2 separate regions of the Homo sapiens genome follow, and region 2 is linked to region 1. The links come from fine-mapping of genetic effects on gene expression. A gene starts in region 1. The other region holds a variant in brackets. All regions are shown on one strand. Distances are from middle to middle. Region 1 holds the start of C1QTNF4 (C1q and TNF related 4). Region 2 overlaps CELF1 (CUGBP Elav-like family member 1).

The links. PIP is the estimated chance that this variant, and not a neighbour inherited with it, causes the effect.
Region 2: its variant is the best candidate, but not a certain one, in a credible set for the expression of C1QTNF4 in esophagus mucosa (GTEx, PIP 0.56).

The regions. Positions count from the first base shown.
Region 1 is chr11:47,591,887-47,597,258 of GRCh38, reverse strand. C1QTNF4 (C1q and TNF related 4) reads left to right here and starts at 2,848. Exons shown (of 2, transcript NM_031909.3): 1 at 2,848-3,111.
Region 2 is chr11:47,541,560-47,546,931 of GRCh38, reverse strand. All of the region lies in intron 1 of CELF1 (CUGBP Elav-like family member 1), which reads left to right. Among named protein-coding and RNA genes, the nearest start is that of CELF1, 8.9 kb to the left of the region's middle. RefSeq lists an enhancer at 4,266-4,765. The variant A/G (reference allele first, on the strand shown) is at 2,132.

The DNA.
Region 1 (5,372 bases):
TCACCTGAGGTCAGGAGTTTGAGAACAGCCTGACCAACATGCAGAAACTCCATCTCTACTAAGAATACAAAATTAGCCAGGGTGGTGGTGCATACCTGTAATCCCAGCTACTCAGGAGGCTGAGGCAGGAGAATCACTTGAACCTGGGAGCGGGAGGTTGCGGTGAGCCAAGATTGCTCCATTGCACGCCAGCCTGGGCAACAAGAGCAAAACTCCATCTCAAGAAAAGAAAAAAGAACCCGTCTCAATTTATATATATTTTAATGTTAATTTTTTTAACTTTTTTTTTAAGTGATGGGGACAGCTGGGCGCGGTGGCTCACGCCTGTAATCCCAGCACTTTGAGAGGCCAAGGCGGGCGGATCACGAGGTCAGGAGTTCCAAGACCAGCCTGACCAACATGGTGAAACCCCGTCTCTACTAAAAATACAAAATATTAGTCGGACATGGTGGCGCGCTCCTGTAATCCCAGGTACTCAGGAGGCTGAGGCAGGAGAATCGCTTGAACCCGGGAGGCGGAGGTTGCAGTGAGCCAAGATCGCAGCATTGCACTCCAGCCTGGGCAACAGAGCGAGAGTCTGTCTCAGAAAAAAAAAAAAAAAAGAGAGAGAGAGATGGGGTCTCACTCTGTTGCCCAGAGTGGTCTCAAACTTCTGAGCTCAAGCGATCTTCCCACCTTGGCCTCCCAAAGTGCTAATATCATAGGCGTAAGCCACCATGCCCAGCCATACCCGTCTCAATTAAAAAATAAATAAAATAATTGTTGTTTAAGACCAGCCTGGGCAACAGAGTGAGACCTCGTCTCTACAAAAAATTTTAAAAAAAATTAGCCAGGCATGGTGACCTGCACCTGTAGTCCCAGCTACCTGGGAGGCTGAGGTGGGAGAATCACTTGAGCCCGCAAGGTCAAAGCTGCAGTGAGCCAAGATCATACCATTGCACTCCAGCCCAGGTGACACAGCAAGACCCTCTCTCAAAAATAAATAAAATTGTGGCTGCAAAACAAGAGAGGAGGGAGCAGGGACTATAACCAGCCTAGGGCTTTTCTCTGGATCCTGCTGCCACCTCTTCTTAACTCCCATTCTGGAGCCCACCCATCTGCCTTACACCCACCAGCTCATGGCATCATCTTTCTCTATATCCCTTTCCCAGTGGCTTCCTCCCTATCCCAGTCCCCTGATGCAAATCCTGATGTCATCTGCCCCAGCCACCCATCTCTACCTCAACCCTCACTTCTCTGGTGAGAACTCTTGTGGATCCAGGGAGTGTCAAATCCCAGCCTGAACCAAACCTCAACTGAGATTATATTATCCTATAATATACCTTCTCCCCTCCCCTCCCCTCCCACCATTGGAATCACCCTCAGGAGAGCAGCTCCACTCTTCTCATCCAGAAGGGGCCCATGGCCCTAAGAAGGGCCATAGATTGCCATAGGTTGGCTTTTGGCATCCCCCAGCTCTCCTTCGACATCCCTGTGTGGCTCATCCCACCCTTACCCTGCTTCTTGTCCTCCCCACAGTCCTGTGGCCCAAGCTTTTCAAGTTGGTGAAAGAGACAGTTGTGATCTGACAAGGGCTAGACAGGTGCTTCACCCTCTGTCACCAAATACCCTCATTATCCAGCCCAAAACACCTCCATTCATTCCTTTCTATTCTGGCACATATTCGTTAATTCATTCCATCATTCACCTAACACCCTTGAAGCAGAGCCAATCACCTCTACCAACATCTTCCTAGAGACAAATAGATTAACTGGGGTGGGGTAAACTTTGAGAGCTCCAAAAGGAAAGCTCCAGAGGACGGGGGTTCTGCAGGGGTCCAGGCCTCTCAGGGACCACAGAGCAGACCTGCAGCAGAGGCAGAATTAGAGCCCATGGCTCTGGAGTCAACCAGGGCCAGGCAGAGGGCACCAGCTCTTGGCTGCTGAAAGTAGAGCTCTTCAAAAGTCATCCACTCAGTCAGCATCTACTGAGTGCCAGGCAGTGTCGTCACCTCTACAGCCGTCAGGGGAGAGAACAGCAGCCTAGAGAAAGGGAGTCTGAGCCCCCATCCCACGGGCTCGAAGCCCAGAGTAGAGGCCAGCACTAGTGCCTCTGGTGAGTATTACCATGGGAAGACCGCTGTTCCCAGCCCGGGTGCCCTGCTGGACTCTTGCTAGCCTGGCCCCAGCGAGGCAGGGCATCAGTTTCCCTCTCCAGAGGCCTTTCTTCCCCACCTATTGCCCTCTCAATCCTGTCCCTTCTTGCAGGAGCAACCTTCCCAGCAGAAAATTCCATTCTGCCCCAAGGACTCTCCTCCTTACTGCCCCTCACCCCGGGGAACGCAGGCTGCCCCTCTGATGCCTGCAGACTCCCTTCTCCCTCTTTCCTAACCGACCGTGGGCATTTTCCAATTTGGAGGTGAGGAGGAAAAACTAGGTTATTTTCAGCTCTTCCTTTACTGGCAACATTGACCCATTTATCCTTCTCTTCCTTCAGACCTCTCCCCCAAGGCCACTTAGCTTGGACATCTGTCCCAGCCAAAATCTCACCTTCCACTGTCCTTGCAGCCCAAAGGCTAGTCCAGCCTCTGAGTCCAGCTCTAGCCCTCTCTCCCCACACTAGGAAGGAAGCTGGACTGTAGAGCGCTCTGGGCCACCCCGCGTTAGCTGCTGCCTCTGGCCTCAGTTTCCCCAACTGCTCAGATTAATGATGCCTGCTCTCTAGACCCAGAGGACGAAGCTCTAAGGAGGTCACAGATGAGGAAGGGTCCAGTGCTCGGCGCAGACTCCGTGCGGAGCCCCTAGGCCCCGCAGCTCGCCCCTCCCTCTCCCCTACTCCCCTCCTCTCCCCCTCCCGTCTCTCCCCCGCCTCTTCGCTCTCGCTCGGCTCCCTCTCTAGCTGACCTTCCCTTTCCCTCACGCCTCCCCACGCCCGGCCCCTGGCCCCAGCACCCTGTCCGCTGCCGCCTCAGAGCCGGGAAAAGCAGCCGGAGCCCCCGCCGCCCCTGCCGCAGCGCGGGCGGTCAGCGCGCAGCCCGGCACCCGCAGCCTGCAGCCTGCAGCCCGCAGCCCGCAGCCCGGAGCCAGATCGCGGGCTCAGACCGAACCCGACTCGACCGCCGCCCCCAGCCAGGTGAGGGCAGCTGAGGGGAGGCAGGGAGCCGAGGTTCCCCCTTTACTGGAAGCGAGGGCTGGGGAGGCGCGGGGAAATTGGGTCCTTTTTCCTTGAAAGGAGGACCTGGGAGCCTTTTCGTGAAACAGGCACAAGGGCTTTCATTCCAAAGGGATGGATGGATGGAGGGAAGGTCTCGGGGGAGAGGGATTGGTTTTTGTTTTTTAAAAATAAGGATTAATTGGCTTCTGTGAAAGTGGGACTTCTTGGAAGGATGAGGGGCTTTCAAGGTAGGTTGGGGAGGGGGCTCTGGCAGGGCTTGAGGGAAGGGTTAACTGGTGAGTGGCAGGGCAAGGGGGAACTCTGCGATCCCCTCAGCCTGACATCGCTGCACCTCCCGCCTTGGCTCCGGGGCTCTGGGTCTCTCCAGCTCTGTGTCCCAGTTTTTCTCTTTGAAGATGACTATTTTGAACCCCACCTGGACAGAGCCAGGAACAGCCATTTCCTTCCCTGGAGCTATGACACCCACCTGACACACCCTCCCACACCTCTGACCTGCTCAGGGAAGGGGGTTCAGGGAAGGACGAGGATCCAGGGATCTGGGAATTGGGCAGTGTGGGTGAAACGGAGGCTGGGTACTGGGTGCACAGGAAGACCCTTGGCACTGGTGGGGTGCACCAGCCTTGGTCAGGAGGTTGCTGGGCAGCTGCTTCTGGGGCAGGACCCACTAGGAAAGCAGCGGTATGGAAAAGCTGAGCTGTTTTCCGTGTTCCCAGAAGACAAAACACTAGAGAATGTGTTTGCTTGCTTTTGTTTGGTTTTGCTTTCTGTCTTCCTCACCCTGGATCCCAAGACTCATTCCTCTGATCTCCTCTCCTAGTTTTGCAAAAAGGTAAACTGAGGCACAGAACAAATTGGCTGGACATACCTGTGTCTAGGAGGGAAGAGTGACAGGAAGGCATACGGAATTTGAGTCAAAAAACCTCAGTGCTCCATGGGTGACCTTGGGCCAAAATGCTTTCCCTTGTTGGGCCTCAGCTTTCTCATCTATAAAATGGGAGACGGCCCACCTGTCTTGTAGGTTTGCCAAGACCATGTGTCTAAAAGAACTTTGTAAAAGGGAATGCACTGGACACTTGTGAGGTGCCATCTTCACCACTGTGGATGGCCCCTTCCCTCCTCCCTGTCCTAACCAAGGGACACCTAACTAATCCATAGGACACCTTTGTGAGAATTACAAAAAGCACCTCCTCTGGAAGGAGACAGCATTCAGTTGGCTAGCAACTTGGGGTCTTTAGTATGAGAATGAGAAGGTGGCATACTTTACGCCAGGTGCTGCTCTAACATGTGGAGTGTGAGCTAGATTCTAGCTGGGACGTTCTGCACATCTACACCTGACAACCCTTCTCAGCAGGTCCCTGCTGTCTCTAAGAGACACAGAGCTACACATACAGGGCATTTTCTAAAGCAGCCCACATCCCAGGCTGTCTCCAGCTCATTTCTTTCCTGTTTTGTTTCCACATCAGGGCTTTTGGGTATTCAAGCCCCAAAGCACGTGCCCTACTAGGAAGCAGGATGGAATCCCTACATCAGAGAGTGACTCCTTTGAGTTAAGCAGTGCCTTCACCAAGCTCTCAGGGGTAGGAGTGACTGAGTCCCTAAACCCTTACGTCAAGAACTGGACCAGATCACTTTTGTCAGGGCAACCGACAGAAGCATCTGCACACCTCAGCACTGCCGTTGACAAACCATGTTCACACCTATCTCAGCACACCCCCACAGCAAGCCTGTGTGTGAGGTCTCTTCCCCATTTACATGGAGGAAGCCATGCCCAGAGAAGTTAGGGAACCTGCCCAAGGTTTCACAGTGTGAGTGGTAGAGCCAGGACCTGAACCCAGATCTGGCTATCTGTCCTCTCCAATCCATCACTCCCAAGGAACAAAGCTGCTGACTTCACAGCCTTGCCAAAGCCCTGCTGGAATTGTTGCTGTCCCTGTCCATCCCCAGTAGCCCCTGGCTCGCCACTCCTTCTTCTGAGTAACCAGCCTCCAAGCAAAGAGAAAGGAGTCACCTTCTCTTTTACTCTGATTTCAAGGGGGAGGAAGCTACCTCAAAGCCCAACTGTTCTCGCCTCCTCTGTGCAGGAAGGGCCCCTGGTGAGGCCAGGAAAGGGGTCAGGGAGCAGCGATTTCCTTTCCTGCTCAGATGGGGCTTAAACAGTAACGGTCATGCAGAGCGTTGACACAGAGAGCCAGTGCCTGCGTGAGTGGCAGACCAAGGAC
Region 2 (5,372 bases), 50 kb after region 1:
TGACCCCCAGCTAATTTTTTGTATTTTTAGTAGAGACGGAGGTTTCTCCAGGTTGGTCAAGCTGGTCTTGAACTCCTGACCTCAGGTGATTCACCCACCTCAGCCTCCCAAAGTTCTGCAATTACAGGTGTGAGCCACTGTGCCTGGCACAGCGTTTTCAAAAAATGTGTGCTGAAAAAGTATCACATGAAGAGGATAAGAATTGACAAGTTCCTGCCTTTGCTTTATACCTATAATATATGAATGGCTTTCTTAGGTGGACCAATTTCTAGGTATCTTATGTTGTGCACAGATAAATTTGTAAATCTGTCATTAATGGCCTAGTTAGAATAATACTTTCAGGTATGAACATTTCAAAGATACTCATAGGTCTCTCAGTTTGTTCTAGTGTGAAGAAAGTTGGCCCGGCGTGGTGGCTCATACCTGTAATCCCAGCACTTTGGGAGGCCAGGGTGGGCGGATCATCTGAGAAACCCCGTCTCTGCCAAAAATACACAATTAGCCAGGTGTGGTGGCGCATGCCTGTAATCCCAGCTACTTAGGAGGCTGAGGCAGGAGAATCGCTTGAACTAGGGAGACAGAGGTTGCAGTGAGCCAAGATCAAGCCACTGCACTCCAGCCTGGGCTACAAGAGCAAAACTCCATTCCCTCCCCCGCCCCCGCCCCCGGCCCCCGCCCAAAAAAAAAAAAAAAAAGATACTGAGAGTATCTGTCAATTGCATGAAAGGCCTTTCTCCTATTTTTCTCCCTTAAAAAGATGTAGGGAGGCCGAGGCAGGCAGATCACAAGGTCAGGAGATCGAGACCATCCTGGCTAACACGGTGAAACCCCGTCTCTACTAAAAATACAAAAAATTAGCTGGGCATGGTGGCAGGCACCTGTAGTCGCAGCTACTTGGGAGGCTGAGGCAGGAGAATGGCGTGAACCCGGGAGGCGGAGCTTGCAGTGAGCTGAGATGGCACCACTGCACTCCAGCCTGGGTGAGAGTGGGAGACTCCATCTCAAAAAAAAAAAAATATATATATACACACACACACACACACACACACACACACACACACGCAGACACACACACACACACGTATACATATGAGAGAGAGGGGCTGGGCATGGTGGTGCATGCCTGTAATCCCAGCACTTTGGAAGACTGAGGCGGGCAGATTGCTTGAGCTCAGGAGCTTGAGACCAGCCTGGGCAACATAGCTAGACCTCATCTCTACAAAAAATACAAAAATTATTGTATTTTCCTACAAATTTTGTAAAACTTTTCTACTAAAAAAAGAAGAAATAGAAATAAGGTCTCTGGCAGCTAGGCAAACTTTATGCTGTAAGACTTCAGATTCACTCCTTGTTATTAACCTCTTAATGCTCCTTGTTATTAACAATATGTTCCTTATTAACCTCTTAATAACCTCTTAATAACTCTTGTTATTAACCTCTTAATAATGAGTATTGGAGACTTTATGGTTCTGAATGAAGGTCAGTATTTATTTGTTCTTTTGAGACAGAGTCCCGCTCTGTCGCCCAGGCTAGCGTACAGTGGTTCAATCTCGGCTCACTGCAACCTCTGCTGGGAGGGGTTCAAGCAATTCTCGTGCCTCAGCCTCTCAAGCAGCTGGGATTATAGGTGCCCGCCACCATGCCCGGCTAATTTTTGTATTTTTAGTAGAGATGGGGTTTCTTCATGTTGGTCAGGCTGGTCTCGAATTCCCGACCTCAGGTGATCCGCCCACCTCGGCTTCCCAAAGTGCTGGGATTACAGGCATGAACCACTCCACCCGGTCTTAATTTTTGTATTTTTATTAGAGATGGGGTTTCGCCATGTTGGCCAGGCTTGGCCAGGCTGATCTTGAACTCCTGATCTCAAGTTATCCGCCTGTCTGGGCCTCCCAAAGTGTTGTGATTACAGGCATGAGCCACCATGTCTGGCCTATTCTTTGATTCTTGATTTTTTTATTTTTATTTTTTTGAGAGTGAGTGTCACTGTTGTTACCCAGGCTGGAGTGCAGTGGCACCATCTCAGCTCACTGCAACCTCCACCTCCTGGGCTCAAGTGATTTTCCTTCCTCAGCCTTCCGAGTAGCTGGGATTATAGGCATGTGCCACCATACCTGGCTAATTTTGTATTTTT[A/G]GTAGAGATGGGGTTTCTCCATGTTGGTCAGGCTGGTCTCAAACTCCTGACCTCAGGTGAACTGCCCGCCTCAGCCTCCCAAAGTTGATTGCTATTAATATAATCCTATAGTTACCAGAACACGTATACTAGAATTACAGTACACTGAAATGGTCAAAAGGCAAATAAAATAGAAATAAGAAAATTTTGATGAAAATCTGGAGAATTAAGTCTTTCTGTAATTGAGAGTTGATTTTTTGATTGTGGAATCCTTGAAATGGTTTGAAAGAATGATGTGACTTGAATGGGCTTTATAAACACAGCCTGGTAAGGATAGCTGTGACAGCTTGGGACAGTGGATTTGGGGTACCACCAGTTAACATTTCTGGCCCTGTTTTCCTGTCTTTAAAGTGGAGATACCAACTCAGAATAGTAATGTGAGGATTAATTGAGGTAACTTATGCTAGGCACTGAACAGTGCCTGATACAGTATTGATAATGCTGTTTCTTTTTCCATGTGTAAAATGGGCATACCACTAGTCTCTTGGGTCAGTAATGCATTTCAGCCAAATGAAATAAATAACACAGGTGAACTGCCTAGGAGTGCCATACATAGATGAGCAGTAGCTACTATGTCAGTGTTCCTTTTGTTCCCTTTTATGAGTGCATTTTGTTTTGCATTTTCTTGTGTCTGTTGTGGCTTAAGGGATAAGATTTGTGTGTCTGAAATGCTGTGCTAAACAGGACGTTGTTCCTTGTGGAATACTTGGGTAATATGGTTTCCTAGATTTCATATTCACTATTTCTACTTTGAGAGTCTACTGTTAGGAGGCTTCTGTGTTCAAAGAAAACTGAAAATTATAAATGAATATTTTGGATTTGTAATAGGGGACACTTGGGTCTCTTCGTAGTTTCAAGTGACAAGTTGAGGCGGGGAGGAGGGCTCTAATATTTAGAGTTGTAATGCAGATTTAAGACTTAATCAGTTTTAGCTATTTGCTTTGTAAACTATATTGTATCAAGAGTCCTTATTTGCCGAAAACAGCTTTCTTTTTTTTTTAGAGACGGGGTGGGGACAGGGGTCCACGGGTCCGCTATGTAGCCCAAACTGGTGCAAACTCTTGAGCTCAAGCAGTCCTCCTGTCTCAGCCTCCTGAGTAGTTGGGATTGATTACAGGAGGGCAACATCATGACTGCCTTGAAGACAGTTTCCTTGATGAGACCTTTGTAAAATAACTTTGGTCTTGTCATAGAATTGGCTTAGAATCTTCTTAAAGTAGAGGTTTCTTTATAGAATTCTATAGTTATTTTTTAACCTCTGCTGTGCTGTGGAGGCCATGAGTACATATTTGTTTATTTTACACTTCATTAAGTTCCAGATTTGTAAAGTTTGGGGCTTTTTTGGGCTGTTGTTTTCCGAGACAAGGTCTCATTGTGTCACTCAGGCTGGAGTGCAGTGGCGTTATCGTGGCTCACTGTAGCCTCAACCTCCCAGGCCTCAAGTGATTCTTCCCCACCTCAGCCTCCCAAGTAGCCGGGACTATAGGTGCGCAACACCACGCTTGGCTAATTTTATTTTTTGTAGAGATGGGGTCCCACTATGTTTCCCAGGCTGGTCTTGACCCCCTGGTCTCTAGCAATCCTCCTGCCTCGGCCTCCCAAAGTGCTGGGATTACAGGCATGAGCTACCATGCTGGCCTTCTTTTCCATTAGAGACAGGATCTCTCTTTGTTGCCCAGACTTGAGTGCAGTGGTGCAATTATAGCCTGGAACTCTTGGGCTCAAGCGATCCTCCAGCCTCAGCTTTCCGAGTAGCTGGGACTACAGGTGCACACTGCTACACCTGGCTAATTTTTGTAGTATTTGTAGAGACGGGATCTCTCCTAGTCTTGAACACCTGTCCTCAAGTGATCCTCCTGCCTTGGCCTCCCAAAGTGTTGGGATTACAGGTGTGAGCTGCCGCACCCAGCCCTGTTGATATTTTCTAAAGATGAGCACAGTCCAGCCCTGTTGATATGTTGTAAAGCTGAGCACGGTGGCTCACGCCTTTAATCCCAGCACTTTGGGAGGCCAAGACACGCGGATCACGTGAGGCCAGAAGTTTGAGACCAGCCTGGCCAACATGGTGAAACACTGTCTCTACTGAAAATACAAGACTTAGCCAGATGTGGTGGTGCGTGTCTGTAATCCCAGCTCCTCAAGTGGCTGAGGCACAAGAATGGCTTGAACCCAGGAGGTGAAGGTTGCAGTGAACTGAGATCACGCCACTACACTCCAGCCTGGGCAACAGGGAGACCCTGTCTCAAAAAAAAAAAAAAAAAAAAATGGAGAAAGTATCAAGAATGATGAGGTTTTTTTAGTGATTGCATTGATACCTAATGGATCTCACTTAATCAAATTTGATGTGCCACTTTTAGATATGTTCATGGGTGCAGATACGGCTTTATTTATTTGAGACAGAGTTTCACTCTTGTTGCCCAGGGTGGAGTGCAGTGGTGCGATCTCAGCTCACTGCAGCCTTCGCCTCCCGGGTTGAAGCGATTCTTCTGCCTCAACCTCGAGTAGCTGGGATTATAGGCACCTGCCAGCATGCCTGGCTAATTTTTGTATTTTTAGTAGAGATGGGGTTTCACCATGTTGGCTAGGCTGGTCTCGAACTCCTGACCTCAGGTGATCCACCTGCCTCGGCCTCCCGAAGTGCTGAAATTACAGACGCACGCCACCGCGCCCAGCCCAGTACGGCTTTAGAAAGAACTCTCCACTAACTTTATGACCTCCAGGTCTTCTTTTTATAGCTACATTCAGCTTTGACAAAATGGAGTTGAATAATTTTACTTTCTTTCTAAGTTATAACTCCATTAAAACTGTGTTTTGGGGGGGAATGTCTTTAGTTTGGGGATTATGCAAAATGAAGTTTTTTGATTCCTGGGCTGTGTAATTTTGTACTGTTATACTTTTAATTTCGAAGGGTCAGTAGTTTCCATTTTCTTTCTTTCTTTCTTTCTTTCTTTCTTTCTTTCTTTCTTTCGTTCTTTCTTTCGTTCTTTCTTTCGTTCTTTCTTTCGTTCTTTCTTTCTTTCGTTCTTTCTTTCGTTCTTTCTTTCTTTCTTTCTTTCTTTCTTTCTTTCTTTCTTTGACAGTCTCGCCCTGTCACCAGGCTCTGGAGTACAGTGGTGAGATCTTGGCTCGCTGCAACCTCTGCCTCCTGGGTTCAAGCGATTCTCCTGCCTCAGCCTCCCAAGTTGCTGGGATTATAGGCATG